Linked DNA regions of Homo sapiens. The protein of the gene in region 2 purifies or fractionates together with the protein of the main gene of each other region. This does not show direct contact. Each region holds a gene or a part of one and is shown on either strand. Other genes may lie near its edges.

Region 1 (7,605 bases), on a different chromosome or scaffold from region 2:
TGAACAGAGGAGACATCACAGAGGCTACTGCAAAAAAATCTGAATGCCACTCTGCTTTGTCTCAAGACTGAAACAAGGCACAGGAAAACCACGTGGCCTATGGCCTATTCCCATCAGTCAATGGCAAGAGTTTAACAGGAAAAGACAGACAATAAAGAAAATATTCCACAACCCATACAGGATCAAGATGCCCATTACGAGGGAAGGTCTGAGCCTAATGAGATGAGCAATAGCAAGGGCTATGCCCAAAGACCCAGGATGCTGATCCCAATTAGTGAGGGACTGGGAAACTGGTTCAGAGAATGAGCAGGCACTTGGAGAGCTGAGACACAGAAGACAGCTGCTCATGTAATGGAATCTTGGCCTCAGGCAGCAGCAGCAGCAACTACAGCAATACACATGAAAAAGCTGAGTTTGCTTTCACTTCCTTCCCTGCACTTCTCCTCCCAAGCCCTCATTTCCTGGTGCCCTGTGCCACTGCCCACTTTAGGGGTGAAGGAAGACTTGCTATGCCTTTCCTCTCTACCACTGAAAGCACCAATCCTTTCCAAGTCATAGATCCCAGCTGGGTGTTACAAAGAAAATAACATTTCAACTTTTCACGTCATATAACCAGTAGCCCCTTCGATCTCCTATAGACACCCACATTCTTTATTAATGTAGTAAGTCTGGCAGCTCTCCAAGATATACAGCAAATGAAATAAAACCAAAGTAAGGGTTCTAGAATCTCCCTGAGGACACTCAGAACAGGAGCACACCTGCTTTGGCTGATCTGTCTCAATTCTTCCTGTACAAAGAAACCCCAGAAGAACACTGCCTGTCCTTGTCCAAGGTCACAGAACTTTTGCTGGCTTTGCCACTTACTATGTGACTTGGAGCATCAGTTACTCCAAGTCTTAGTTTCCTTGACTATAAAATAGGGAGAAAACTTAGCTTATGAAGTCGTAAGACCACATAGCTTATGAAGATGAGAATGTAAGCTCTATCAGGCAAAGCTCCATTTTGTATGATGTTATTCTCTCGTGCAGAAACAAACAAAATCCAGCAATGCTTGGTACAGAATGGGCAGTGACCTCTCAGAATAGGCTGGCTGACTGAAGAAATGAATAACAGCGCAAACATTAGTACTCAGTAAGCACACCATGTTGCTTCTGCCCTTCACGACTTACTGATTCAAGCCACACTTTAATATAAAAAATCTAAAGTAGACATGAATGAATTAAAAATGAAAGACAGCTTTTCCATTTTCATTTTCTTATCTAAAGAATGGACAGCAAGCCCGTTAAGTGATGGCTTACTTTTATATACGAAAATACTGAAATGGCTATACGAGCAAAAGTTATTTATTAAGACAGCTAGATCTAGACTAAGGTTTCTCAACCTTGGCCCTCTTGATATTTGGGGCCAGCTGATTCTTTGTTGGGGGGCTGTTCTGTACATTGTAGGATGTTTAGGAGCACTCCTGCCCTCTATTCACTTTCCTCTCAGTTGTGACAACCAAAAATGCCTCCAGATATTGGCAAATGTCCCCTGTGGGAAGGGGGGATTGCCCCCCTCCAGTTAAGAACCACTGATGTAGGCACAAGTAAACTTTGGGAAGTTGGGGCTGGTTTAGAGTACTCACTACGTTCTCATGTACTACCTCAATCATCATGACAGGCCTGTGAAACATTATTATATCTTCATCTTACAGATGACAGACTGAGGCTAACAGAGTTAACTTGTTTAGAGTCACAAACCTCAATAAGACGCAAAATAACGACCAGACCCAGGGTGCCTGACTCCCATGCCTACCAGCCTCAGCAGCATACTACACTGCCTCTTCCTTTAGAGGCTTTCCAGACTTTTTTTAAGACACAGTCTCACTCTGTCACCCAGGCTGGAGTGCAGTGGCACAATCTTGGCTCACTGCAACCTTGGCCTCCCAGGCGATCCTACCCACCTCAACCTCCAAAGTCGCTGGTACTACGGGCACCCACCAGCACGTCTGGCTAATGTTTGTATTTTTTTGTAGAGGGAGGTTTTTGCCATGTTGCCCAGGCTGGTCTCGAAGTCCTGAGCTCAAGCAATCCACCCACCTCGGCCTCCCAAAGTGCTGTCACAGGCGTGAACCACCGCACCCAGCCGTGAATTATCTTTTGTTTTTATTTTCTAGGCAAAGGGCCGATTACCTTTCATTTTCCCTTCATGCATCGGGCATCCTGAAGGTGGGGACGCTGAAGCATTTGAGGCCTGAACTGCAACAGCAGGAGCAGATGGAGACAAACCCATGGCTGGAAACAGTGTTGACTGTAAACAATTTTAAATTTCCACCTGCCAAAACAAAGAGACAGATTAATGTCTCTGGACTCAGACTATTCTCTCGTTAGTCCTAATCTGGTCAACCCTTGTTCCTCCTCTTTGTCATCCCATGGGCATCTACCAGGCAGGGTACTAACTTCGAAGGACAGCTTTAATATATTGCCCCCTTAGGGAAATACTGTGAAACCCAGGCCAACCTCTGGGGGCACGTATGTATCTAAGGCAGTGAGGATTTTGGGACTGAGGTGAGGCAGTCGCTGAGAAACCACGTCACAGCCAGGAGGTACAGGCCTGAGGCGGGAGTGGGGCGAGGATTTCCGAGGAGTGGTGACCCGGGTGGAGGAGGGGAGGTCCATTGAGCCTAGACTTGACCCCCATCCCCAGAGCCTTAGCGAGGGGCTGGGGGTCCGAGAAGGGTGCGGCGCATGAATAGGAATTCGAAGAAACGAAGGGACACCAGAGGTCGAGAAGCTGCCAAGTGTCTTCCCCACACCGTCCCGGCGCTTGCCCACCTGCTCCAGCCCGTGGTCCCCAGACCAAACCGGCCGCGGCCAGCCTGCCCTTCTGCACCTAAGCCCTCCCCCGGGCTGTTCCGGGAGGCCGGTACCGCCTTCAGTCGCCAACCCGAACCCAGAGCAGCAGTGACTTCACGCCGCCGCCGCCGCCGCCGCCGCCTTCCTCTCACTCGGTCACCGCTGTGGCTGCGGTCACCGCCGGCGTTCTCACGCACCCCTACTTCCTTTTTAGAAGGCGGGACTTCCGGGCACGCGGGAGGCGGGCTGAAGAGTAATATTTTCCGTCAATCACGGAGAGCGGGTTCCGTCCCCTCCTCGCCCCGGCCTGTAACTGCTGCGGGGGCCGCTTTCTGGGCCCGCCCCTCCAGGCCAGGAGCCTTTTTCAAAATGTGGCGGTGGCAGGGAAGGTTGTCTGCTCCAGAGGCTTCCCTAGAGTGAAGAGCTCTACTATGTATGCTTTATGCGGCAGAAGGAGTGCTTTGGAGGAGTTTTTAAATTTGTTTTTTTTTTAAATCTTATCGGTTTTAATTGTAGCAATGATTCAAGAAACGTTAGTAGGTGCCCATAACTTCGGTGGTGGAGATCCAAAAGTGAACAAGACAGTGTTCTGGCTGCTAAATTCTTCTTAACTGGGTATGTGATTTTGAATGTCTGTATTTTCATTTACCTCCAACAGAAATTTAGCATTTTCTTCCATCAGGGATGTAGGCAATAAATCCTAGTACTATTAGCTGTATGTGGCACTAATACACATTACAGATAAATTATGTCACATATGGTTGTTGTGCCTGTCTCAAAATATCATCCATCCACTACTTTGAAATTAAGGTAATTTGATCTTGTTACTTAAAGTGTTAATAAAGAAACATATATCTTTCTATATAACTATAGTGGCTCTGTGAAATACGTCCAGATGTCCCCTGGTGCAGAAAGTGTTGGGGGCTCACAGCTTTCAGCTGAGTCTCCAGGAATTGTCCTCTGCCTAAGAGAATTGCCTCACACAAAATCACTTCCCCTCCTTGGGGACGATCTGCATCCTATGAGGGTCTCTGCAAGGGCACATAAGTCCAGGCCCCTAGCCCCAAAGGGGACAACTCAGAAGGGCCATCCCAGCATCAGAACTGCCTACAGGATAGCCCAAGGATTCCATTTCAACTATCACAGCTCAACTTCTCTCTTTACCCACAATTCTTTTGTCCCTCCCACAATTCCTTTTCACTCCCGCAATTCTGTTTTGTTACCCACAGTTCTGTCTCCCACAATTCTCAGTTCTTTCCACAATCTTCTGTCTCTCCCACAATTCCTTATTTCTCCCACAATCCCATGTCACTCCCAAAATTCTATTCCTTCCCACAATTCATTTTTCTGTCCCACAATTCCTTGTCTTGCTCACAATTCTCTTGTTTCTCCCATGATTCCTTGTGTCTCCCACAATTCACTTTTCTGTCCCACAATTCCCTGTCTTGCCCGTAATTCTGTTGTTTTTCCCAAAATTTGCTGGGTTTCCCAGCAAGCCTTTATTCTTTCCTACAAATTCTTGTATCTCTCAAAATTCTGTTTCCCACAGTTCCATTCCTCCCACAGTTCTCTGTCTTTTCCATCATTCCCTATGACTCTGTCTGTCACAATTCCTCAAAATTATTCATTTCCACAATGTTCTGTTCATTCACAATACTCTGTTCTTATTCCCCAGTCTCTCCCATAATTCCCCATTATCTCTCATAATTCTGTTCTTTCACAATATTCTTTTTCATGATTTCCTTTCTCCCACAATTCTCCCTTCATTCTCATAATTATTCCGTCTCTCCCACAACACTGTATTCTCTCCCATGGTTCCCTGTATCTCCCAGAACTCTCTGTTCTCTCCCCCAATTTCCTGTCTCTCCCTGAGTTCTCTGTTCTCCCACAATTCCCTGTGTCTCCCATAATTCCATGTTTCTCCCCACAATTTTTGGTTTCCTCTCACAATTCTCTGTTCTCTCCCACAATTCCTTATCTCAACCATAATTCTGTATTCTATGCTACAATTTCCTATCTTTCCTATAATTCCCCATCTCCCCCACAATTCTTTGTTCTTTCGCAGAATTCTCCACTCTTACAATTCTCCATTCCCTCAAAATACTCCATGATTGTTCACAATTCCCCAGTCTCTCCCCTAACTCCCATTCTCTCTCATAATTCTGTTTTCTCACAATATTCTCGTTCACAATTTTCTATCCCACAAGTGTCCCTTTTCTCCCACAATTTTGTGTCTCTTCCACAATTTTTTGTTCTCTCCCACAATCCTGTGTCTCTCCCACAATTCTTTGTGCTGTCCTCTCCACAAATCTATGTCTCTCCCACAATTCTGCTCTCTCCCACAATTCTGTGTCATATGCTACAATTTCCTGTCTTTCTCATAATTCCACATCTCTCTCCTAATTCTTTCTTCTCTCTGATAATTCTTCACTTTCACTCACAGTCCTCCATTCTCTTAAAATTCTCCATCCTCATTTGCAATTCTGTAGTCTCTCCCCTAACTCCTTAGTCTCCCTCATCATTCTGTTCTCTCACAATACTCTATTCTCTTACACAATTTCCCATCTCTCCCACAATAATCTCTTCTCTTTCATAATTCTCCCTTCTCTCCCACAATTCCCCGTGTGTCCACAATTTTGTGTCACTCCCACAATTCTCTGTTTTTTCCTACAATTCCTGATGTCTTCCCCCTTTCTTTATTATCTCCCACAATTCCCTGTCTCACCTACAAGTCTCTGTTCTTTCCCATAATTCCTTGTCTTTCCCATAATTCCTCGTATCTCCTACAATTCTTTGCTCTGTCTCACAATTCTCCACTCTTGCACTTCTCCCTTATTACACAATATTCTGTTCTCTTTCACAGCTGCCTAGTCTGTCTCCCAATTCCACATTGTCTCTCACAATTCTCTGTTCTCTCATGATACTTTATTCTCTCCCGCAATTCTCCCTTCTCCCACAATTCCCTATCTCTCCTATCATTTTCTGTTCTCTACCACAATTCTCAGTTCCCTTTCACAATTTCTCAGAAGACCCAAGCCTGGTCCTGTAACTTCAGTGTTTCAGGGCCCAAGGGGAAGAACATGCCCAGATGAGTGGTATGTGATCAGGAGGAAGGGGTATGGTGGGAGGGTTTGTGGTTATAATGAGAGCAGGTGTCAGGAAAGGTGTGACTAAGGGGGAGCACAAAAGACCAATTATTTGTTTTTTTCTACAATTCCTGAGTTCTTCCACTTAATTCCGTATTATAGCACTTGACAAAAGATTTGCAGTTATGTATTTGAATGTGTAATTCTCTTACCTATGTATGGATTTTCTGAAGTTAAAAAATAGATCTTATTTGGCTTTATATCCGCTATATCAGCACAACTCAAAATGTGTCTTGCCAGTGGGGACCAGTTCACACACTGTTACCCTTCTAATATGAGATGAGGAGCTTTCACCACAAGGCAAGGCAAAGCATTGCTTGCCTCATCCAGAAAGTCTTACTATGAAAAATGTCTCATCTCAGATAAAATTGTGCTTAGTGGCATAGCAGATTTATATTATAGTACAAGATTCTTAATTCAGTGTTGGCCAATAACTAGCAGTTTCTGGACTGGCACTTGGGTAGCACTGCCCTATCATTACAGTGTAGTTTCTGTTGTATAATTGAGTGCTCACTGAAGCAGTCAGAAGCAGACACTGGAAGGGATCACAGAGTCAATGAATCTTGAATGAGTGATGTTTCACTCATTCAGCAATATTTATGGAGCACCTATGATGTGTCAGGTACTGTGGGAAGTGCTGAGAATTTAAAAGTGCTAGACAGACTCCTTGCTCTCAGGGAATTTACATTCTAGTAAATGAATAGATTGGACAACAAACAATCCAACACAAACAGATAAATAAATAATTTAAGATCCTGATAAAAGCCACCAATTAAATGACACAGGTAGTGTGACAAAGATTGAGGCATGGGGGTCTACCCACCCCTGTGGGTAGATGATCTGTGGAGCAGAAAATTTGTATTCCTCGGGAGCTTGTTAGAAATGCAGAATTTCAAGTCCCTCCCCAGAACCACTGAGTCAAAGTCTGTCTTGTAACATGATCCCCAGATGATCAGTGTGCACGATACAGATTGAGAGCTCAGGATACCTTCTCAGATATGGTTGTCAGCAAAGACCTCTCTGAGAAGGGTGACGTTTTAGCTGAGACCTGAATGTTGAGAAGGACCCAGCCATGTGAAGATCAATGCAAAGAGTGGTCCAGACAATGAGAATGCCATGGTAAAATGTTCTGAGATCAGAAAGAACAGGGAAAGACCAGTGTGGCCCACACAGAATGAGTTGGGGGCAGAATAGTAGGAGGTGATGTTGGGGCTGGATCATGCCATAGGCCATGAGGAGGAAGTGACATTTTCTTTTAATTGAAATGTGAAGCCATGGAAGGGTTTTTAAAAAGAAGAATTATTTGATCTGACAATAGAGATAGCTTGTTTTTCTCAACTTTGCTCTTCACCACTTTCTAGTTATGCCTGGAGACCTTCACTTGGTTCTGTGCCAGCACTGCCCATGAACTTCATAGACTGTGATCTTTGCTAAGGCCTAAATGAATGAAGGTAAGTTCCTAAGACATAGCCAGTAGACCCCCCACCAATAGGTCTGTGTTCCATGGAGTCTGCCAGCATTCATCACATGTGTACTCAGAGGGACCGTGTCTACATCAAAGGCCAGGGTTACCTCTTGCTCTTGGAAATAAACACTACTTTTCCTTAAAGGGATTTATTGCCAAT
Region 2 (7,885 bases):
TATAAAATTAGCTGTCAAAAAGAACACAAAGAAACCCTTTGGGGTTCCATGATCTTGAAGAAGTTATTCCTTCATAATGGCAGTAACTTTGAAGCGTTTTGAATGGAAGAATGTAAAGATGTGTCACATTATGTATAAGTTTCCATGTGGATGGAACCTCAGGCTATGAAAGGCTGGCTTGGAAGTAGGCTTGCTTCCCCCAGGTTCCAGAAAAATATACTTAGAAGATGGGAGTAAAATGAAGTTGTGGATACTCTTTGCTCCAGAGAGGGAAACAGGGAGCTCTTTTGGTAACCTCAGAGGGGCTTGTGAGCCAGGAATCAGTGAGTCAACAGTAATAATGATTCACATAAATGACTGCTCCTTAGTGACAGAGGGGCTGCCCTCTGGGTATAGCAACTAGGGGCAGTCCTGGGTGGGTGTATAAGTCCACAAAATGGTGGAAGGGTGTTCCTCGAATCTGTACCTTTTCAAGGCTATCCTACCTTTCTAGAGATTCTGCTGTTTTAAAAATAATATATGTTTTAGGAAACTTTATTTTTTTATTTTTATTTTATTTATTTTTTGAGACGGAGTCTCGCTCTGTCACCCAGGCTGGAGTGCAGTGACGTGATCTTGGCTCACTGCAAGCTCTGCCTCCCGGATTCACGCCATTCTCCTGCCTCAGCTTCCCGAGTAGCTGGGACTACAGGCGCCCACCACCACACCTGGCCAATTTTTTGTATTTTTAGTAGAGACGGGGTTTCACTGTGTTAGCCAGGATGGTCTGGATCTCCTGACCTCGTGATCTGCCTGCCTCGGCCTCCCAAAGTGCTGGGATTACAGGTGTGAGCCACCGTGCCTGAACATTATTTATTTTTTTTTGAGACGGAGTTTCGCTCTTGTTGTCCAGGCTGGAGCGCAATGGCATGCGATCTTGGCTCACTGCAACCTGCGCCTTCCAGTTTCAAGCGATTCTCCTGCCTCAGCCTCCCGAGTAGCTGGGATTACAGGCACCTGCCACCATGCCCAGATAATTTCTGTATTTTTAGTAGAGATGGGGTTTCACCATGTTGGCCAGGACGGTCTCAAACTCCTGACCTCGTGATCCACCCGCCTCGGCCTCCCAAAATGTTGGGATTACAGGCGCGAGCTACGCGTCCAGCCAGGAAACTTTATACTACACAGTATACATTCTGTATTTGGTGGTTATGTCAAAAGGAACAAACAAACGCCTCCTCCCCAACAAACTGCATAAGGGCTCTTGGTCATGAACTCCCCTGGTAACTCCCCATTACATCATTTCTTTTTTTTTGAGACAGAGTCTCGCTCTGTTGCCAGGCTGAAGTGCAGTGGCGCGATCTTGGCTCACTGCAACTACACCTCCTGGGTTCAAGAGATTCCCCTGCCTCAGCCTCCCTAGTATCTGGGACTACAGGTGCGTGCCACCACGCCTGGCTAATTTTTTGTATTTTAGTAGAGACGGGGTTTCACCATGTTGGCCAGGATGGTCTTGATCTCCTGCTCTCATGATCCACCTGCCTCAGCCTCCTAAAGTGCTGGGATTACAGGCATGAGCCTCCGCGCTCGGCCTACATCATTTCTATAGGAAATGATGTTCAACTTAAGGCACTCGACCGCCAAGACTTTTTCCAAAATTTCAAACCCTGTGAAAACTGGTTGGCCATCAGTATCACAACTGTTAACAGAACCAAGACACTAAAGCCAAGAGTTTTGAACAAATGCTTGTCATCTCCTGCAAAAGTCTGTATCAAGGACTACAGTGCTCTGTCTAGGATATTTCTCACCTGGAACTTCTCCAGCTCACTGGTGACCAAAGCCTGGGCTTGAGCCAGAGGCACATGGCAGCGCTCGATGCACTGGTGCACCTGCTTCATGGAGGCCTGGCTGTCCTCACAACAGCTGGCGCTGCACCGGAACATGAGACCCTGGGGAGAAAGGGCAGAGAGGTTAGGTAGGAAAGTCTCTGGGGACAGAGATGACTATGGAGCACTACAGGAGTTAGAAGGCCACGTGGATATTTGCACCTCTCTCTCCACCTTCTGCTTTCACCTTCCCTGAGAATAGACACCAGGACCTTAAAACCACCACTGGGGAAAATTATCCTCAATGTCTAGTGTAGTGTTTCATGGTGTCCTTGCTGCTAGCTCATCGGCACCTGTTGCACCGATGGTTGGGTGAACAGAGGTTCGCCCGAGTGGGTGAGGGTAGGGTGGTCTGACGAAGCCAAATTCTGAAAACCAGGAGCCTCTTCCATGGGGTTCAGAGGTCAGCAACCTAGCAATACAAATTCCACCAGAGGGCAGCCGACCCACTAATCAATGACTCAAGGGGCACTATCTGGGAAACGCATACTCCGTGAGAGAAGCAGGACCGAAACACACAGAGGCATTGCGGGGCTCAGAGAAGAACAGTGTAGAAACCCGCGCTGTGTGAAGCGAGGTTGGGCGCAAGAGAAGCAGGCATGACCTGGCCAACGGGGAGGCCGGAAGTCCTCGCCTTTCTGGTCTTTCACGTTGGCAGCGCCTCTGCTGGGCCTCGGGCCGCTCACCTGCGGAAGGGGCCGCGTAAGAGGGGAAGGTGGTGGGGCGAGCGCCTGCCACCAGGGGCTTCCCACCTGCCGCCGAGGACGCTCCTGCCCCGGGCTGGAAGGGGCGGAAAACAGCCTCGCGCACGGCAAGGGCACACGGATTTCATCCGATCCGCCAAAGCTTCCGAAGTCCTGTCCGAGGCCGCCCCGGCGACCCCAGGGCCGCCCACACCCGGTCTGCGGGGACGCGGCTGCAGTGCAAGGCGTCGCGTGGTGGCTGAGGGAAGGGCCCGGAACCCACCCGCTGAGAAGGGGGTCCTGGTTCGGCCCCAGCCCCGCTACCTGCATCTTCCGGATGTTCTCTCTTTCCAGACTCTTCACCATGGACTCCACCGCCTCCTGCACCCGGAGCTGCTGCAGCTCAGCCATGGCGACCCCGCGCTGCCCCGCGGCGCTCCGCGCCGGCGCCCATATGGAATCGGCGTACGGGCCCGCCCCCTCACCGCCCTTCGCCGCCCTTCGCCGCCTGCCCTTCCAGGGCCCACGCCCCCCCCTGGCGGCCGAACGGAGCCACTGCATGCTGGTGTCCGCGAGCCCACCGCCCTCCTCCCGCTTGGGAACCGGTCACTGGGACACCTGCCCTGCGGCTGCTGCCTGCCTTTCCTCCTCCCTCCCATGTCCCTCCCTTTACATTCTTTAAAATTATTTAATGTAATTTACATACAGATAAATGCCCAGATCTTAGGCGTGCTGCTTGATGAGTTTTAACAAACCCTGTCCGCCGGGCGCAGTGGCTTACGCCTGTAATCCCAGCACTTTGGGAGGCCGTGGGCAGGTGGATGACCTGAGCTCAGGAATTTGAGACCAGCCTGGCCAACCTGGCGAAACCCCGTCCCTACTAAAAATACAAAAATTAGCCGGGTGTGGTGGCACATGCCTGTAGTCCCAGCTATTTGGGAGGCTGAGGCAGGAGAATTGCTTGAACCCGGGAGGGAGAGGTTGCAGTGAGCCGAAATCACGCCATTGCACTCCAGCCTGGACGACAGAGTGAGACTCTGTCTCTAAACAACAATAAAAACCCAAACTCTGTCTTGTCCCAATCTCCGTCCTTTCTACCCCATCTCCCCACCCCTGCCCTAACTGGTCTGCTTCTGTCACTGTAGATTACATTTTCTCTTTCTAGAATGTCATATGTATGTTATTATCCAATAAGTACTCCTTTTCTGTCTGGCTTTTTTAGCATATTGCTGAAAAATACTTAGCCTAATGCTTTCGAGATTGAGCTGTGTTGTTGGTTCTTTTTTGCTGCTGAGTAGTATTCTATTGAATGGACATACCACATTTGTCGTTGTTGTTTTTTGAGACAGGGTCTTACTCTGTCACCCAGGCTGGAGTGCAGTGATGTGGTCTCGGCTCATGCAGCCTCCACCTCCCTGGTTCAAGTGATTCTCATGCCTCAGCCTCCCGAGTAGCTGGGATTACAGGCATGTGCCACCACGTCTGGCTAATTTTTTTTTTTTTTTTGTAGACACGGGGTTTCACCATGTTAGCCAAGCTGGTCTCCAACTCCTGAGCTCAAGGGATCCACACACCTCGGCCTCCCAAAGTGCTGAGATTGCAGGCATGAGGCATCGGTCCCGGCCCACATTTGTTGATCCATTCCCCTGCTGATGGGTGTTTGGGTCTTTTCCACTTAGTAGCTATTATGAATAAAGTGGTGACTATGAACATCCTTGACCATTTTTTTTTTCTTTTGGAGATGGGATCTTGCTATGTTGTCCAGGCTGGTCTCAAACTCCAGGCCTCAAGCTATCCTCCTGCCTCTGCCTATCAAAGGGATTACGGGTATGCACCACCACCCAGTCCTGGACCAAGTCTTTTGTAGACACAGATTTTCTTTTCTTTTGGGTAAATATCTAGAAATGGGATTGTTGGATCACAGGGTAGATGTATGTTTATGCATTTATTTCTCATAAAAAATGAACTTCAGAGACAAAGCAGGGGCTACAGATCATCAATGAAGCAGTCATCAATGAAGCACTTACATGCCAGCAACATGAAACTGTTTCTGAATTCCTGGAGCAGTTTTTTTTTTGGAATGCCTCACTGTCCCACCCATAACAGTACTGTCGTGTGCATTCATTTATCGAATACATTAGCTAGGGGTGCGGGTCCAGAGGGGAGTGTCAGTGGAGAAGGGAAACACACTCCGTGGAGAAGGGGAAGGGGCAGTGTTGGAAGAGGTGTGCTGGAGGAGGTGGTCCAGGCTGGCAAGGAGGGAGTGAGCCATCCGGGTTCCTCAGGAAAGTTTTCTTAGAGGAGATAAGGCTTGAATTGAGGCTTTGAATTGAATTGAAATGAGTGGGTGTTTGCTTGGCATATGGGGCTGAAGAGAAAGCCATGTCAGGCATGGGGGTGCAAGGTGGGGGTGGGGGAGGAACAAAGGAATGGGGCCGTCATTAGAATTTAACGATTTTCTGCCATTGGGCGCTAGATGGCAGGAGAACTCTAGTTTAGGGCAGTGGGGAGTTTGACTCAACCCAAGCTTCTTTGAAGAAAGCTATGTTTTGATTGGGCACGGTGGCTCACGCCTGTAATCCCAGCACTTTGGGGAGCTGAGGCAGGTGGATCACCTGAGGTCAGGAGTTCAGGAGTTTGAGACCAGCCTGGCCAACATGGTGAAACCCCATCTCTACTAAAAGCACAAAAATTAGCCGGGCGTGGTGGCAGGCACTTGTAGTCTTGGCTACTTTGGGAGGCTGAGACAGGAGAATCGCTTGAATCCGGGAGGTAGAGGTTGCAGCGAGCTGAGATCACGTCACTGCACTCCAGCTTGGGCAACAAAGTGAGACTCTGTCTCAAAAAAAATAAAATAAAAAATAAAAGCAAGCAAGCAAGCAAGCAAGCAAGCAAGCAAGCAACCAAACAAGCTGTGTTCTTCCAGCGCCAGGCCCTCTCTAGTGAGTACAAGTGTGAGTATCTCCCCATAAATCACAGTTCAGGGTCTTGAGACAGCCTGTTCACTTCAAGCTCGACTACAAGTGGCTCCCAGCAGCAGCTGGAATCAGGGCGACACCAACTATTAAATAATGTGCCAGACAGTGTTTTAAGTGCCTTCCACGGGATGATCTCATTTAATTTCCATGACAAAGCACCCTATGAGGTGGGTACTTTACTCTCCTCTCTTCTCTCACTCAGGGCAGAAAACTGAGGCCTAGGGAGATGAAACCACTTGCCAGAGATTGCACATTTATAAACTGGTGGAGCTGGAATTCCAATCCTGATGGGCTAACTCCAGACTAGAAAAAGTAGGAAATCTCTATTGTGACTGACTTAATGTTTATACTTATGTCCCATATTCCACAGAAAGTTCTTTCTTTCTTCTTTATAGCACAATCTGAAACTACTCACTTCTCCCTCTTATTCCTAAAATGCCAGACAGAACCTCTCCAACAGCTCCTACTTGTAGGAGCCAAGTTAATCATGCTAAAATGAGTTTAAAAGTCCTTGAGTAATGCAGCCTTGTTAGTTTCTATACACAAATTGAATGGTACTTTTAGTATTTACGAAAAATGATTCTTGGCTGGGGCGGTGGCTCACATCTGTAATTCCAGCACATTGGGAGGCCGAGGCGGGCAGATCACTTGGGGCTGGGAGCTTGAGACCAGCCTGGCCAACGTGGTGAAACCCCCATCTCTACTAAAAATATAAAAACATTAGCTGGGCATAGCGGCACACACCTGCAATCACAGCTACTCAGAGGCTGAGGTGGGAGAATCACTTGCACTCAGGAGGTGGAGGTTGCAGTGAGCTGAGATGGTGCCACTGCACTCCAGCATGGGTGACAGAGCGAGACTCTCCCTCAAAAAAAAAAAACAAAAAAACAAAAAAACAGAAAAAAAAAAACCCAGAAAAAAAAAAAAGAAAAATGATTCCTGACTTCCAGTTAGTTGGCTGTGGAAATCCCATGGGAGTCATGGTGGAAGCAGAGTTTAATCTCATGTTAGGAAGCTCAGATACCTGTCTGTGCTATTACCCTGGTGCTTTGAGGGTGGGAAATGAGGTTTCAGGATTATCTGGCTCAAGCCTGGGCTGACTCACTGGAAACAAGTCACAGCTCTTTCAGGATCCTGGGTAGTCAGTTCTGTCATCTTGATTCCTTTCCCACCTCTCCTGCATGCCATCCTGTGAACGCAGGCCCCGCAGTGCCAGAGACAAATGGTGGCACAAGAGGGACTAGGGCTCTTTCCTATTTTCTCATGTTCAGGATGTGGGTGAGATAAATGGGGGCCAGGAGGCCCGGGATGAGGGGAGGAAGTGAATTTTGCTAGATGCTGCTACCTTTTCTAACCCTCAGGTTAGCAATGGGTGGTAGCCAGAAACCCAGCTATGGCCAACCTTGGTTAAAGACTTCCAGATGAAACTTTATCAATCAAACTGATAATTTAGAAAGCAATTCTCATGTTATCACTTGTTTTTAAATTAATGCCAACAAGAATGAGATTGAAGTGTTATCACTCTCTAGTCATGACACTCCTTGGTCGATTATGATGCCTTGCTGGGGAAAAGAAAACTCACAAGCAAAGAACACTGTCTTCTGCAGAATGAAGAATTCAGTCAACTTTTTGGAAGTCACAAGTACTTTTTAAAAATATATTCAATTGCTGGCCGGGCATGATGACTCACGCCTGTATTCCCAGCACTTTGGGAGGCCAAGGCGGGTGGATCACTTGAGGCCAGGAGTTCGAGACCAGCCTGGCCAACATGGCGAAACCCCGCCTCTACTAAGAATACAAAAATTAGCTGGGCGTGGTGGCGAATGCCTGTAATACCAGGTACTCAGGAGGCTGAGACATGAGAATCACTTGAACCCGAGAGGCAGAGATTGCAGTGAACCGAGATCACGCCACTGCACTCCAGCCTGTGCGATAGAGACCTTGTCTCAGGTTAAAAAAAAAAAAAAAATATATATATATGTACACACACACACACCCCCCCACACAATTGCTTCAGAGCTCTCTGCCAAAAAAATACATATATATTCAAAACTTTGGTTGAATAATTATTTTATATATGTATATTATTAAATATAAAATAAAGCAAATGTTTTATGATTATAAATATCCAATTATGTAAATATCTCTTGAATCTATTCACATCTCTCTAGCTTACTGTTATCACCCTAAAGCCACTATTATTATTATTATTGCCTGGCCTACTACAGTTGATCCTGTTTAAATCTTCCTATTGTGGCTAGGTGGTGGCTCATGCCTATAATCCCAGAACTCTGGGAGGCCGAGGCAGATGGATCACTTGAAGCCAGGATTTTGAGACTGGCCTGACCAACATGGTGTA
Region 3 (7,023 bases), on a different chromosome or scaffold from region 2:
CTGCACTCCAGCCTGGACAACAAAGCAAGAGACAATACAATTTCCCATATGTTGGTATGTATGAGATATATACCTATTATTAATTTATGACATTTCCTTTACTTTAGCAAGTTAGTAGTAAGAGGTGAAGTCAAAGAGGTAAGCTGGGGCTAGAGACTAGTAAACCAAGTACGGAGTTCAGATTATATTCTAATTGCATTAGGGAACTATTAAGAGTTAAGTAGGAAATCGGCATTTGCATTAAAAAAAAAAAAAAACCACCTTAGTCCTATGTGGAGGATAGATAAGTTAGGCAACAGTAATACCGGAAATAAGTGATGAGGTTTGGACTAGAGCAGTGATGATGATAAATTCTTTTAAATTTCCTAACAGCCTCTTCAGGTAGGTACTATTATCTTCATTTTAGAGTGAGCCAAGGGCAGAGAGATTAAATAACTGGTCCAAGGTCACACAGTTTAGTAGGGGCCATATTGAGATTCAAACACAAGCAATTTGGTGGAAGAGTAATAAGATGTAGAGAAGAAGACGAAGTAGTTTTAGAGTTATGGTTGTCAAGACTTGCTAATCAATTAGATGTACAGATGAAAGAAAGAAAGAAAGAATATTCCTAGGTTTTGCTTGAGTTTGGTAGTATAATTATGCAGAGAAAGGATATAAAATAAAAAGAAAAGGGGTTCCAGGACCTACATATGGAGTACTGCACCATTTAAAAGTTGAACAGAGAAGGAGGCAGGAGCAGAACACCCAGTGCTTGGCAGGAAAATTGGGAGAGCTCGAAAAGCCAAGAGACTAAGTATTTCTAGGAGGAGGGAGGACAATGTATACAATGCTGTTGAGAGAAGGTGTAAATGAGAACAGGTGTAAATGCTAAATTAATTCCGAGAGTCTTCTAATTGTATAATTAAGGCGACAATTTCTATATGATTGCCATGCATCCTTCCATTTTTCACCTCATGGTCCACGTACCGTAAGAGATCCATTTTGTGTGCTGGGTGAGTTGCTGCTCTGCTCCCCGTGGGCTTGCGTACTTCCGTAGAGTGTCAGGTTATGCTCACCGGTCTGGCCGGCATAGTCTTGAGTGTGTGGCACCCCATACTCTGTGGGAATTCCATTCTGCGGAGGTGGTGGAAATGGGATGGTAGTAAAAGGCTGAACCATTGCGTCAGGAGTTGTTGTCGGCTCCTGGTTACCCTAAAACAAACAACAAGAGAAAGAAAAAGTGACTTTGAATCCTTGTTACGTAACTATTTTTAAAGTGAGTATATGGAATTCTCTGAATATTCTCTCACTGCATAGGTAAAATGGAATGCTTATTGCTCCAGGATTGGAGAAAATATTATTACACATACACACATAGATATATGTATGTGGACAGACACACACACACACACACACACACACACACACACACTCACTTTTGTTAATGTGTAGTTACTAGACAGGCCCACAACCATATTTAAGTGGACTAGATGCCAAAGGGGCAAAAATCTTTCCTTTAAATTAAAAGTAGGTGGAGAGCCCACTTTGGACCACAAGCCACTACAGCCTATACCACAGAGAGAGACTCTGTCCCTAAAAAATACGAAAAACAAAAAAGAAAAATCAACTAGGAGAAAATATTAGCAAAAGGTAAGAGAGATGCTGGGTTATTATCACTAGTCCCAGAGTGGGTTAACCAAGTTGACAAGACAGACACACATGTACACACAAACACACACACATCCCAAGAGAAAAACAGGCAAACTGTGTATCTGAACAATTCATTGAAAATGAAATACAAACAACTAATAAAAATGCTCAACCTCACTAACTGTCACGAAAATTCACATTAACATCAAAGTAAGTCCAAGTCTTTAGTCATCAAATCAGCAAAAAAATTAAGCAGTTTTATTATGATATAACTGTCATATGATAAACAGCACTTATTTATTTACAGTATACAATTTGGTAAGTTTTGATATATGCACTTATATTCTCATGAAATCATCACCACAATCAAGATAGTCAACACATATATCCAAAACCCCCAAAAGTTTCCTTGTGCCCCAATAATAAACATATATTACTTTTGTAATAAAACCTATACAAATATATTGTTTTTAATACTAAAGAGAATGACAAAAAATATATCATCAATAAGGGGAAGCCAATATTCTGAAACACTGAATTACTGTGTTACTCTTAAGAGAATGGTAGTGACCTACCTTGAAACAAAAATTCATAACTCTCTTCCATTTAAAAGTTAAACAACTTCAAAATTCAGCTGTCTCCAATGTCCAAGAATCATTTCTACTTGGTAATAAAAACTGCTTTACACAATAGTGGTGAAAGAAAAAAGGCAGAGAATTGGGGGTGGGGGGCTGCCACAGTCTAGATAAAAAGTGATGAACTGATTACAGTTATCAGTGGGAAGGGGCAGAGTCATAGACTGAGTTGTGCTCAGTCTCCAACCCGTATGTTGAAGTTCTAACCCTCAGTACCTCAAAATGTCACTGTTTTTAAAGATAAGGTCTTTAAAAAGGTAATTAAAGTGATGTCATGAGGGTGGGCCTTAATCCAATTGGAGTGGTGTCCTTATAAGAAAAGGGAATGTGGATACAGACACATACAGAGGGAGGCCCATGTGAAGACACAGAGCATGACCATCTACAAGCCAACAAAAAAGACATCAGAAGAAACCAACCCTGCTGACACCCTGATCTTGCACTTCTAGCCTCCAGAATGGTAAGAAAATACATTGCTATATTGTTATGTAATACTTTCTTATGGCAGCCCTTGCAAACTGGTAAAGGCAGGAATGAAGATTCTGTAACAGAAATTAATAATAAAAATAAAAATAAATTGCTTTACATAAAAATTTTCCTGCTATTGGACATAATGGTTCATGCCCTTGTAATCCCAGCACTTTGGGAGGCTGAGATGGGAGGACTGCCTGCGGCTAGGAGTTCAAGATCAGCCTGGCCAACACAAAGAGACCCTGTCTCTAGAAAAACTTTAAAAAATTAGCTGGGCATGGTGGTATGTGTAGTCCCAGCTACTTGTGAGGCTGAGAAAGGAGGACTGCTTGAGCCCAGGAGCTGGAGGCTGCAGTGAGCCATGATTGCATCACCCTAGCCTGGGCAACAGAAAGACCACGTCTCTTAAGGGAAAAAAAAAAAAAAAAAAGGCTGGGTGTGGTGGCTCACTTCTGTAATCCCAGCACCTTGTGAGGCTGAGGCGGGCAGATCACTTGAGGTCAGGAGTTCAATACCAGCCTGGCCAACATGGTGAAACTCCATCCCTATTAAAAATACAAAAATTAGCCAAGCATGGTGCCAAATGCCTTTAATCTCAGATATCTTGGAAGCTGAGGCAGGAGAATCGCTTGAACTCAGGAGGAGGACATTGCAGTGAACTGACATCGCTGCCATTAAACTCTAGCCCGGGCAACAGAGTGAGTGAGACTCCATCTCAAAAGATAGAAAAAAAAAAAAACCCCTCTCTTTAGTTCTTAGAAAATATGTTATGAAAACTTTAAATTTTTTTGGAAAAAGTCTATCTTCGTCACCCATCACCATATAACTTCTTTACGTTATTTCTAGGTTAGGATAGTTTTTATGATGTCTTTATAGCTATTCTGGGCATCTGACGAGAGATATAAAATAGTTATCTCCCTTCCCCTTCAAATTATTCAATGCTCTATCTCTCTGTCTCTCTCTAGCCATATGAAACATACTGCTTCAGAAGCCCTCGCTGAATCTACTGGCCTGAAGACAGACATGAAAAAGAATTGAATTGGAATTCAGGTGGACTGGTGAATGAAACACAATAAGAGCACCAAAGGTCTTATGCCCACATCAGGCATAAATATAATCTCACAGGAATCCATAAGAAAGTTCTACTAAATAATTGGTAAAAGCTAAAAGATAGAGTTTTCAAGTTAGGATTAACAAGGCCAAGGCGACTTTCTCCTGCTCTGACACTGCTCCTTTCAGCCTCCTCGTTTTACTCCAGCCTCCATTCTCCACCCCAGCCTGCTGGGAATGAGACTCTGGCACACAAGTACACAGTATGAATTCTCTCACAGCGTTATTCTCAACAGGGCTGACTCAGATAACTGAATAAACACATCAATTAGCAGTGGGAGATGGGGAGAAAGGTAAAAACATTTCCTGCAATCCACTTGTAGCCTAGGCACTAGGCGTTTTACAGAAATGCAAGCCAGGCAGAGGCTCTGTTTTCCTAGAGGGGTTATGTACCTCCCTTAAGAGGTCAAGAAGAAATTCTTAGTGGATTATTTTGTTACTTACAGAAATTTCTTTTAAAATTTTTGTTAAAAATGTAACAACAATTGTTTATATATTAAGGGAATGAAATTGGGATAGGAGTGATTTAACATTTTCTCTCATATAGCATGCAATGTCTGAATATTTCCCCAAGTATACATTATTAAAAATGTCAAATGGTTTCAGATTTGTATTAAATTTCCAGGCCATATTCCAAAGTTCTATGCTCAGAAGAGAAGTACAACAGCCTTCAGCAAACTATGAGATAACAGTTCACATGAGTATTTCTAGGTATGAATTTACCTCTATACTTATATAAAAATGTTTTGTTTCTATTACCAGAGGCTAAGCTGCTTAAGTATATCTCATCTGAGAAAAGAAATTACTAGCTTTCTCTTTAGTCCACAAGGCTAGACAGAATAGCTCTTTTCCCTAACCTAGCAATTTATAAACTTTCTTCTGTTTCCAGTTAAAAGTAATTCCTTCCTTTCCTATATTCTTATAACATTTAGCTTGCATCCCCTATAAGACATTGAAATCTAAAGCCTCATACTTAGCAAACGTAAATATGTATTTTAACTCCCCTATTAGATTAAAAGGCTCATTATGATGGGTGGAGACAGTCCTGTACAATGTAGAATCCCACATCGTACATAATAAATATGAAGTGTTAAACATTTATGAAATAGAGGAAGACTGAGATAGAAAGTCAGGTGTGTGCACATTACAGCAAACTGCTTTGTTGGGCTAGAGAGCATAACAAGGGATAACACAGAGTGAAACAAGTGTTGGTATCTTGGGTTGATATCAAACTGGAGTGCAGGGATGGGAAAGTAGAAGTGGGGAAGCATTAGGAAAGCAAAGAATCAACATTTACATGCTTGTGCTTTATGCACTTAATTTCCTTCTGTCTTACAAACACAGGCTTTAAGAGTTGTTGACCAGCTGTGAGTGAAAATCAAATGTAACTATTAATTTCTGAGTTGAGAATGATGTCTTTCTCTTTTAAACCACAGATAGTAACAGAGGCGATACATATTATATACAGCCTTTTGGTGTACAATGTGAAATATGCTAAATGTTTTCATTCTGAATTCAAACATACAGTTGTCCCTTCATATCTGCAGGTAATTGGTTCCAGGAACCTCCCAGCCCCCGCCCACCACAGATGCCAAAATCCTTGGATACTCAAGCCCTTTATATAAAATGGCATAGTATTTGCATATAACCTACTTACACACATCCTCTTGTGTACTTTAAATCATCTCTATATTACTTATAATACCTAGTACAATGTAAATGTTATGTAAATAGTTGTTATGCTGTAGTGTTTAGAAAATAATGACAAGGCCCTGCATGGTGGCTCATGCCTGTAATTCCAGATCTTTGGGAGGCTGAGGAGGGAGGATCACTTGAGCCCAGGAGTTTGAGACCAACCTAGGCAACATAGTGGGATCCTGTCTCCACAAAAAATTTTTAAAAATTAGCTGGGCATGGTAGCATGTGCCTGTAGTCCCAGTTGCTCAGGAGGCTGAGACAAGAGGATCACTTGAGCTTGGGAGATAGAGGCTGTGGCGAGCTATGATTATGGCACTGCATTCCAGCCTGGGCGACAGAGTGGAACCCTGTCTCAAAAAAAAAAAAAAAAAAAAAAAAAAGAAAAGAAAAGAAAAAAGTGTCAAGAAAAAAGAGTCTGGTCAGGCCAGTGGCTCACAGCTGTAATCCTAATGCTTTGGGAGGCCAAGGAGGGAGGATCTCTTGAGCTCAGGAGTTTGAGACCAACCTGGGCAATGGGAGACCCTGTCTCCTAAAAAGAAACAATGTCTGTACATGTTTAGTACAGACACAGTCATCCAATTTCCCACCCTAATTTTTCAATCCGCAGCTACTTGAATCCACAGATGCAGAACCCGTGGCTATGGACAGACAACTATAGTATTACAGTCGTCAAACAGGAACCCATTCAACAGTCTATTGCCTTACCCACAGCAATCTCAGAGGTTCAATCATCACCTACCGACAGGTGACTTTCAGTGTTTTTTCTAGGTCCAACCATGTGCCTTCTCCCCAGTTTACATGGAATGTAGTAAAACAGAAGAAAGCATGAACCTAAAAGTCAGACTTGAGTTTAAATTCCAATTATACCACTTACCAGATGGGTTGTTTACTTCAGAGGTGGGTGTGAAAATTAATTGAGAGAGCAGGTGAAACTGTTTTGTTACTGATTCTTTAGCATATTTTCTGTTCCTACTGAATTATTCTGAATATTATTTAAAACCTATGCACAGTACTGTAAGAGAACACAGAAATGACCCAAAATATAATTGTCTTCATATTTCTAGGATAACTAAAGTCTATGTAATCTTTGAGAGAGAAGGGTGTATTTTTGTTTATATCTTCTCATTTATTCCTCAACTTCATTCTAATTTTCTCAGTTTGGTCACCTTGAGTCCCACTTATATACATAAACTGCTATTGTATTGCTTCTAATCAACAGGCTGCAAATCCTAAAAGCTTCTCAATTCCCATACCACATATATGGTCAGAATGGATCATGCACACAAACAGATCAATATTAATTTTATTCACACCATCATAAAAGAATCACTTCATTATTTTGGTAGAGCATATTCTCACCAGTTTATTACCACTGACAATGTCACTAATAGTTTTTCTAGTGCTATTTATAAATGGAAATTAATTTTCTAGGATTATAATACAAATAAAATGTTTTTACTTTTAAGTATTTTTACAAATT
Region 4 (7,023 bases), on a different chromosome or scaffold from region 2:
AAATATACACAGGAAGAGCTTTTATCCACATAAAAATTAATTTAAATGCAAATAAGAAAAGGAAAGGTTAAGTGACTCTGGTGTAACTAATTATTTTTCTGATCTTGCCAGACTACATTAAGGAAAATTCACATTGACAAAAATATAGTCACATAAAGAAGAAACAAGTTGGTTTTCCTAAAGCAGGACTTGGCTCTTCACAAGAATATCAATCCAGCTTTTTGTGTGGAGTAGGGAGAGTGGACGGAGCAGGGAGCTGATGAAAGTGAACTTTTAAAGTGACATCAAGTTCAACAAAGGAGATCTCCACTTAAACCTGGCTGGATCTAGCTTTCCTCTGCTTTTACTGATCCCAGCGCCACAAGCCCACAGCCTCTGTCCAAGGGAATTCAACGCTGGAGGGAGGAGTGAGCTGCACCCGGCGAGGCACCAGCGGGCTCACAAGTGGAGCCAGGGAAAAGCCTACACGGGAAAACGGAGCCAGGACCCAGAAGGCACTGGCTGACACATCCGATTTTCTTATGACCGCAGAGCTACCAAAAAGCACAATATTATGTGTACATTCAGCGTGATATTATGGAGAACATGCAAAGTGACCATAGGAGGCATGGTGGTTTGTATTTTAAAAATAAAAGTTAAGTTCATGGAATTCACCCTGAATGGATAATAATGAAGCTGTCTTAGAGGCGCTGAGAGTCAGCCAAGGATTTATGACACTGATCAAGCAGTTTAATCTTAAACTGAAGAACAAGATGGTCCCACCTAGTGTACCACAGGGATGAAATCCCCTAGGAGATTAGAAACAATACTTAATAAGATCAGACTATAAAATTTCAAACCACTTCTGAAAAAAACCACACATAATGTGATAGCCTGTAAAAGGTAACATTCAAAAGATTAAGGGATAACCTCCTAAATACATGTGTACATCATATGAGAAAATATAGTAATTCTGAAAATGATTAAATATGTCATGAGAGGCTAAGGCAATCCCCTTCAACCCAGAGGTGTGGGTTCCAGGACTCCTGTGATGGGCTGTTTGGTGCCCATCAGAGCCATCTTGGGTGTCAGTCAAAGAAAGACGTCCCTGCCTACCCCAGACTCAACAAAACAGAAAAAAGAGCCCCCCTACCCACCACACCAATCCTGCTGTGCAAGCTCTAGAAGGGTTTAGGTGCTAGAAAGCCCAGTGCACCAAGGGCAGTGCTCAGCTGGAGCCTAGTAACTATCAAAAGTAGTTCAACTTCAGCCCTCCAGAAATCTGGGATTTTGGAAAAGATCCAACTTACTTTACTGCCATTTTGCCAGTCTACGTTTTCTTTCATTTTTCATCCTCTGTAAGTTAAAAAGGCAAGCACAAAGGGTTTATGGGGGCCACCTGGGGATATGTCATTTTAGGGAGGTGAGTAGAGAAGCATAGCCAACTTTCATGTTGATGACTAGGTTTCATCCATTTTAAATAAAATTCATCTCCGAAAAATCAGACACTTCTAATTATACATGGAGTGATTAGCATGATAAATGAGGGGATATGATTTTAGACGAATTAAGTGGTTTTAGAGAAAGTTTTGCTGATATATGTTATCATATAGCAGAGGAAAATCCAACAACCAAGGAAATAGAAATATCTCAAAGTCATATTGTCACATGAAAAAAGCAAGTTGCAAAGCAACAACAGAACTAAATTGATACTATTTGTGTGTATATATGAAATAAAAATTTGAAAATGCTTAGATCAAGACATCTATTGTACATCATGGTGACCACAGTTAATGTATTTTTATACTTGAAAATTGCTGAGAGTAGATTTTAAGTGTTCTCACCACACACACAAAATAGTAAGTATGTGAGGTAATGCATATGCTAATTAGCTTGATTTAACCATTCCACAATGTATTCGTGTTTCAATACACCATGTTGTACACTATAAGTATATACAATTTTTACTTCTGAGTTTAAAAGTAAGTCTAAAAAATTAAACTGAAAATTATAACAAAATGTTCAGAAAAAGGTTGGGGAAGACACACCAATGAATGTTGGATACCTTGAGGGGAGTGAGGGACAAGGAGGACTTCTGCTTTTTATTTCCTACTATCTGGTTCTCTGTCCAGTTGGAACTTAGGATGAAACTGAACAAGAATGTGCACTACTTGTATTTAAAGAAACAAAAAAAAAAAACAACAAAAAAAACCAAAAAACAAAACTCTCCATGTGGTGTTACGGAGCTATCTCATCATAAAGCCTAGACAATTTACTTCAGAGTCGAGCAAATGGTAACTTACTATTTGGAAGAGATCTTTATCTAGGGGTTGAGGACAGAACATACTCACGGCACAAATAATAGGAACTCTGGCTACCCATGATCATCTACTCTAATCATCAGAACATTCTCCGAACACTTGCAGGGTTTAAACCAACCTTGAAATCAGTTATCTGCCCAAGGCAAGTAGTAATTCATGGCAGGCCCATAGAAAAGATTTTGCCCAAGGCAAGTAGTAATTTATGGCAGGCCCATAGAAGAGACAGATGATTTAATTAATTTTGCTGCTCGTGTCTCTCCATGGGAGAAGATGTGTATCTTATTCTCAAGGCTTGGTCAGGCCCATTCTATCAGGATTGGTTTACCAAAAACAAAACACCCAACCAATGTTTAAAAAACATCATTTTTACATACCTGATAGCTTCTGCCATTTTAGTGCTTTCTCTTTTCCTGTCATCTGTCAGACGTCGTATAAAATAAATAAAGTCAAGTCCACAACAGAAGACGCTGCCAACGGCGCTGAGCAGTACCAGCTTGCTGTCATCGGCAGCGGCCGTGCTCAGAGCACTCTGGACTTCTCTCATTACCTGAAAGTCACCAGAAGTTAAAGTGGCAAAGAATATTTTGGGTTTAAAATCTTAAAGCATTTTTTTTTTTGGAGAGAGTCTCACTCTGTTGCTCAGGTTGGCGTGCAGTGGTTTAATCAAGGCTCACTGTGCTCTCTAACTCCTGGGCTCAAACAATCCTCCCGCCTCCGCCTCCTAAGTAGCTGGGACTACAGGCTTGTGCTATCATGCCTGGCTCATTTTTCAACCTTTTTGTAAGAGATGGAGTTTTGCTATGTTGTCTAGGGTGGTCTTGAACTCCTGGGCTCAAACAATCCTCCCGCCTCAGCCTCCCAAGTAGCTGGGACTATAGGCTTGTGCCATCATGCCTGGCTCATTTTTCAACTTTTTTTGTAGAGATGGAGTTTTGCTATGTTGTCTAGGATGGTCTTGAACTCCTGGGCTCAAGTGATCCTCCTGCCTTGGCCTCCCAAAGTGCTGGGATTACATGCATTAGCCACCGCACCCTGCCTAAAAGCATTTTATTACTGGAGAATCTGCATCTGTGAAAAATGCATCATAGCCTGATACAGTTACTGATATCTACCATGATTTTAATTAATTTGCAAATGTCTCATTTTCTGTAACCAGAGATTGAGATGCTGGGGATGGAGTAAAATATAACTACATAACTCGAGTATAATTAAAAAGACATGGGAATCTACGTTATCTTAGTATTTATACAGCCATTGCGGCTCTTAGATAAGGCAAATTGCGGCTCTTAGATAAGGCAAGTTGCTTATTATATCACTGGGCATTTCTCCAGTTTGGACAGCAGGTGGCACATTCAAACCAGTTGAAAGAAACTCATTCAGTTCTACTGTTTTTTGTTTTGTTTTGTTTTAAAAACTACCCTATTACACTTGGGACAGAAAATAGTTTGGTGCGTAAGTGCGTTAAGTCCAAGCACATTAGCATGGACTGGTAATTTTAGGGCATAAAATCATTTTAAATGATCTCTGTGAAGCATTTAAAAATAATCAATGAAGGGACTCTGCAGTCTAAAAATGTACCAAGGACCAACTTTGAACTGGTTTGTTATGTGACCCCGGGCGAACACACAGACTTTCTGTAGTTAAGTTTTCTTGTCTGGACAAAACTCAACCTAGCTACTCACAAACTACTAGGACTTAAAATTTTGGAAAGATATAGGTTAGGTTCAAATACTCCCGATTCTAGAAACTTCACAAAATTCATGTTCTAACCTTTCCAACAACCAGTTCTGGAAAACTTACTTACTAGGCACTATCAGCAATGAGCATGTGTGGAAATCCCTGTTGCTGTGTGTTCTGCTACAACCGCTGAGGAGTATCTGGGGACTGGAAAGATGATAAATATTCTGAAGGGACTGGGATCCCCGGGGGCACTTAAATTCTGTCTGAACAAAGAACCCTTTAAGGATCTGATGAAAGCTAAAGCAAAGCGCGTGCACACACATTTCCCACGTGCCTTCATGGAGCCCCGTGCCCGCCAGATGAAGAGCTTCCAGGCAGGAGGTGAACCACAGAGGCACAGAGGCCTGGGTGGACCCACACCCGGGAGAATGGGGATGGACACTCAGCACAGGCCAAGCATCCTGAATTCACGGCCATTGGAGGTGGGACATGGAGCAAAGCCCGCAACTTCCCCTCTGCTCCCTCCCTTCTGGTGGGCATCGGGAGATGGCCCAAAAGGAGGTTTAGAAAGAGCACAGGAAGAGCCAGTTCAGCCAGGCAGGCCTGGAAATCAGGCAGGGAGAAGCGCGAAGCCCACGCCAGCCCAAGAGCGCCTCTCACCTCTGGATTTAGTGAGTTATTCTCTGAGGACTTTGTGGATAACAAGATGTGGGTGAAGCCATCCTGCTTCCTGACCACAATATCTCTGTATCTGTAGGCACTTTCTGTTTGCCTCACGCTGAAACGCAATCGCTTGTCAAAAGGCTGGTCTCTTCTGTCGTCAATAAATTTCCTTTTGCTGGCAGTCACTCCTGTAACAGATGTCTGTATGTTGGTTGTCCCATTGGCTGTTAATGCATCCATGAACGGAGATGTACCTGCCGAGAGTTTGAAATCACAGTAGTCTGTGATGTCCCACCACCAGTTCACTCCCAGGTGTCATCTTTGAATTGGATAAAGATGTTCATTACACACTTAGGATTAAACGAATATAAGAATATTAAAACTTAGAACCTTTAGAAAGCCAAAGTCTACTTTTAAAGCCACTTGCTCTCTTTCAAGCTCTGACAAGAAAGTCACTCTTTTGTTTCACCTTGCCTAAAAAATACAGATGGAGAGGTACTTATTGAAAGGAAGCTACATAGTTAGAGATTTTTTTAAAGGACAGAATCAAGACAGAATGGGTCTCATGGAGAGTATCTATTCCAGGTTTGAGAAGCCGAAAGAAAAAAGGAAAATAATCAAGAAAACATCTTATTATTAGAGTCAAGGCCATCTAGTCGAAACTTCTTTTTCCAAATGCAAGATAAACTGGATAGACACGTGGATGCAGCCAGCCTTCTCTGCGGGTCATAGAGCTGTGTGGCAGCCACCACTTCAGACCACCACCCCTGTGGGACACTCAGGAGTTGTTTCTAGCTGCCCTGGGAGGGACTATCAGAAAGTCCATCTACTTGTTCCAGTTCCACTCCTTTTTCAAACAGCCCTGTTAAGCAGCTGAAGATAGCTCTCCTCTCCCCCACCACATAAAGCATCCTGCCAACGTTCCCTCGTATGTCACAGCTCAACAGCAGCAACTGTGTTTTGCCAGGGTCTTGAGATGGGGTCTTGCTATGTTGCTCAGGCTGGTCTCAAACTCCTGGCCTCAAGTGATCCTCCTACCTTGGCCTCTCAAGCAGCTGAGATGTACAGGCATGAACCACTGTGCCTGGTTAAGAATGCAAATAATTATCCTCCTGTCTGTATGAATTGTCCAAATATGATCCAATGTGGTGATGAATGTAGAGTGGATGGGGAAAAAAGGAATGAAATGTAAGAAAACTAGATCAGACTTTACTAGTAGCATTAGCAATGGCAGAAGTTCTCTGAGGGCGGAGCATGAAGAATTATGAATCAGAAATATTTCCTCCAAAGTGAAAGAGAATAAGCCAAAGCCACCAGAAAACTCATGAATGGACATTTCAGAGGAGCCAAATAACCTCCCTGGCAAAACAACCTGACTTTCATTCAACTGGTGGAAATAATATTTTAATTGCTAGAGGTTTTTTTTTAATTATATTTTTGAAAAATTTAAAGAGGTTATAATACATACATATGGTTCAAAAACCTAAGAATATAAAAGATATTAAGGTGAAAGCCCCCCACAGCCTGATCCTGTTTACACAGGATCCCCCTGCCCTCTTAGCCACTTGGGCTGGGTTCTCAGGGGCCCCTCCAGAGTATCTCCATGGATATACAAGAAAACATCAATACAGACTTCTCCACCACCCTGGCTTTTAAAAGCACAGATGGCAGTACACTAGATGTAGTATAAGATGCTGTATCTTATACATTGTTGTCTTGCTTGTACATATATAAGATATACACATTGTTACATCTCATGGTTATTCCTTCCACAATATCTTAGAATGGCTCCTCTATCAGAACATAGCTTCCTGTTCTTTCCTAAGGCTGCGTGGCAGGCGAGGCCCAAGGTAGGGATGCACTGTAATTCATTTTCCAGTTCACACTGCAATACGCACTACTATTCAGTGACTTGTCGATATGACCAACAACACAGTGACACATAATCCTGACCTCTGTCATCCCAGTGCTGTCAAATCTCTACAAGCTTCCAAAGGACTTGTAGCCTGGAGTAGTTCTAACTGGAGACCACTGGGTCGGATGTTACCAGTCAGCAAAGGTGTTGCTGAGTCCTTCTGAGGGACTCAGGAAAGACTTTTTCTTTTAACCTCCATCCTCTACCCTACCAGATCCTTCTCCCATCTTTGTTTAAAAACGTTTGACAATCTCGTCTCCCCTCAGGAACCCTCTCTAATCTGTTCCTCCAGTCTCAGTCCCATCACGGCCTCACCTGCCTGCACTTGCTGTCTTCACCTCTCCCTCTGTCCATCATTCTTCAACCCATTCAACTGGGACCCAGAGTCCACATGGCCAGGAACCTTCTGAGTCTAGAGAAATGGATGCTGGATGACTCTAAACATGTGAGCCTGGGGGAGCGGAA

Evidence for each region.
Region 1: the proteins of FAM136A (region 2) and HCCS purify together in Homo sapiens (affinity purification with mass spectrometry; 3 studies listed by BioGRID and IntAct, with this or other methods). This does not show direct contact.
Region 3: the proteins of FAM136A (region 2) and RBFOX2 purify together in Homo sapiens (affinity purification with mass spectrometry; 3 studies listed by BioGRID and IntAct, with this or other methods). This does not show direct contact.
Region 4: the proteins of FAM136A (region 2) and CDYL purify together in Homo sapiens (co-immunoprecipitation; 3 studies listed by BioGRID and IntAct, with this or other methods). This does not show direct contact.

What each region holds. Positions count from the first base shown.
Region 1 is NC_000023.11:11,106,727-11,114,331, reverse strand, and holds the start of HCCS (holocytochrome c-type synthase), read right to left. Parts: upstream 3,001-7,605; 5' UTR 2,814-3,000; intron 2,314-2,813; 5' UTR 2,272-2,313; coding exon 2,172-2,271; intron 1-2,171. UniProt on the Homo sapiens protein: Lyase that catalyzes the covalent linking of the heme group to the cytochrome C apoprotein to produce the mature functional cytochrome.
Region 2 is NC_000002.12:70,299,053-70,306,937, forward strand, and holds the start of FAM136A (protein FAM136A), read right to left. Parts: upstream 3,016-7,885; 5' UTR 2,960-3,015; coding exon 2,552-2,959; exon of another isoform or gene 1,929-2,551; coding exon 1,788-1,928; intron 1-1,787.
Region 3 is NC_000022.11:35,808,814-35,815,836, forward strand, and holds part of RBFOX2 (RNA binding protein fox-1 homolog 2), read right to left. Parts: intron 1,192-7,023; coding exon 967-1,191; intron 1-966. UniProt on the Homo sapiens protein: RNA-binding protein that regulates alternative splicing events by binding to 5'-UGCAUGU-3' elements. Prevents binding of U2AF2 to the 3'-splice site.
Region 4 is NC_000006.12:4,933,389-4,940,411, reverse strand, and holds part of CDYL (chromodomain Y-like protein), read right to left. Parts: intron 4,898-7,023; coding exon 4,641-4,897; intron 2,848-4,640; coding exon 2,675-2,847; intron 1-2,674.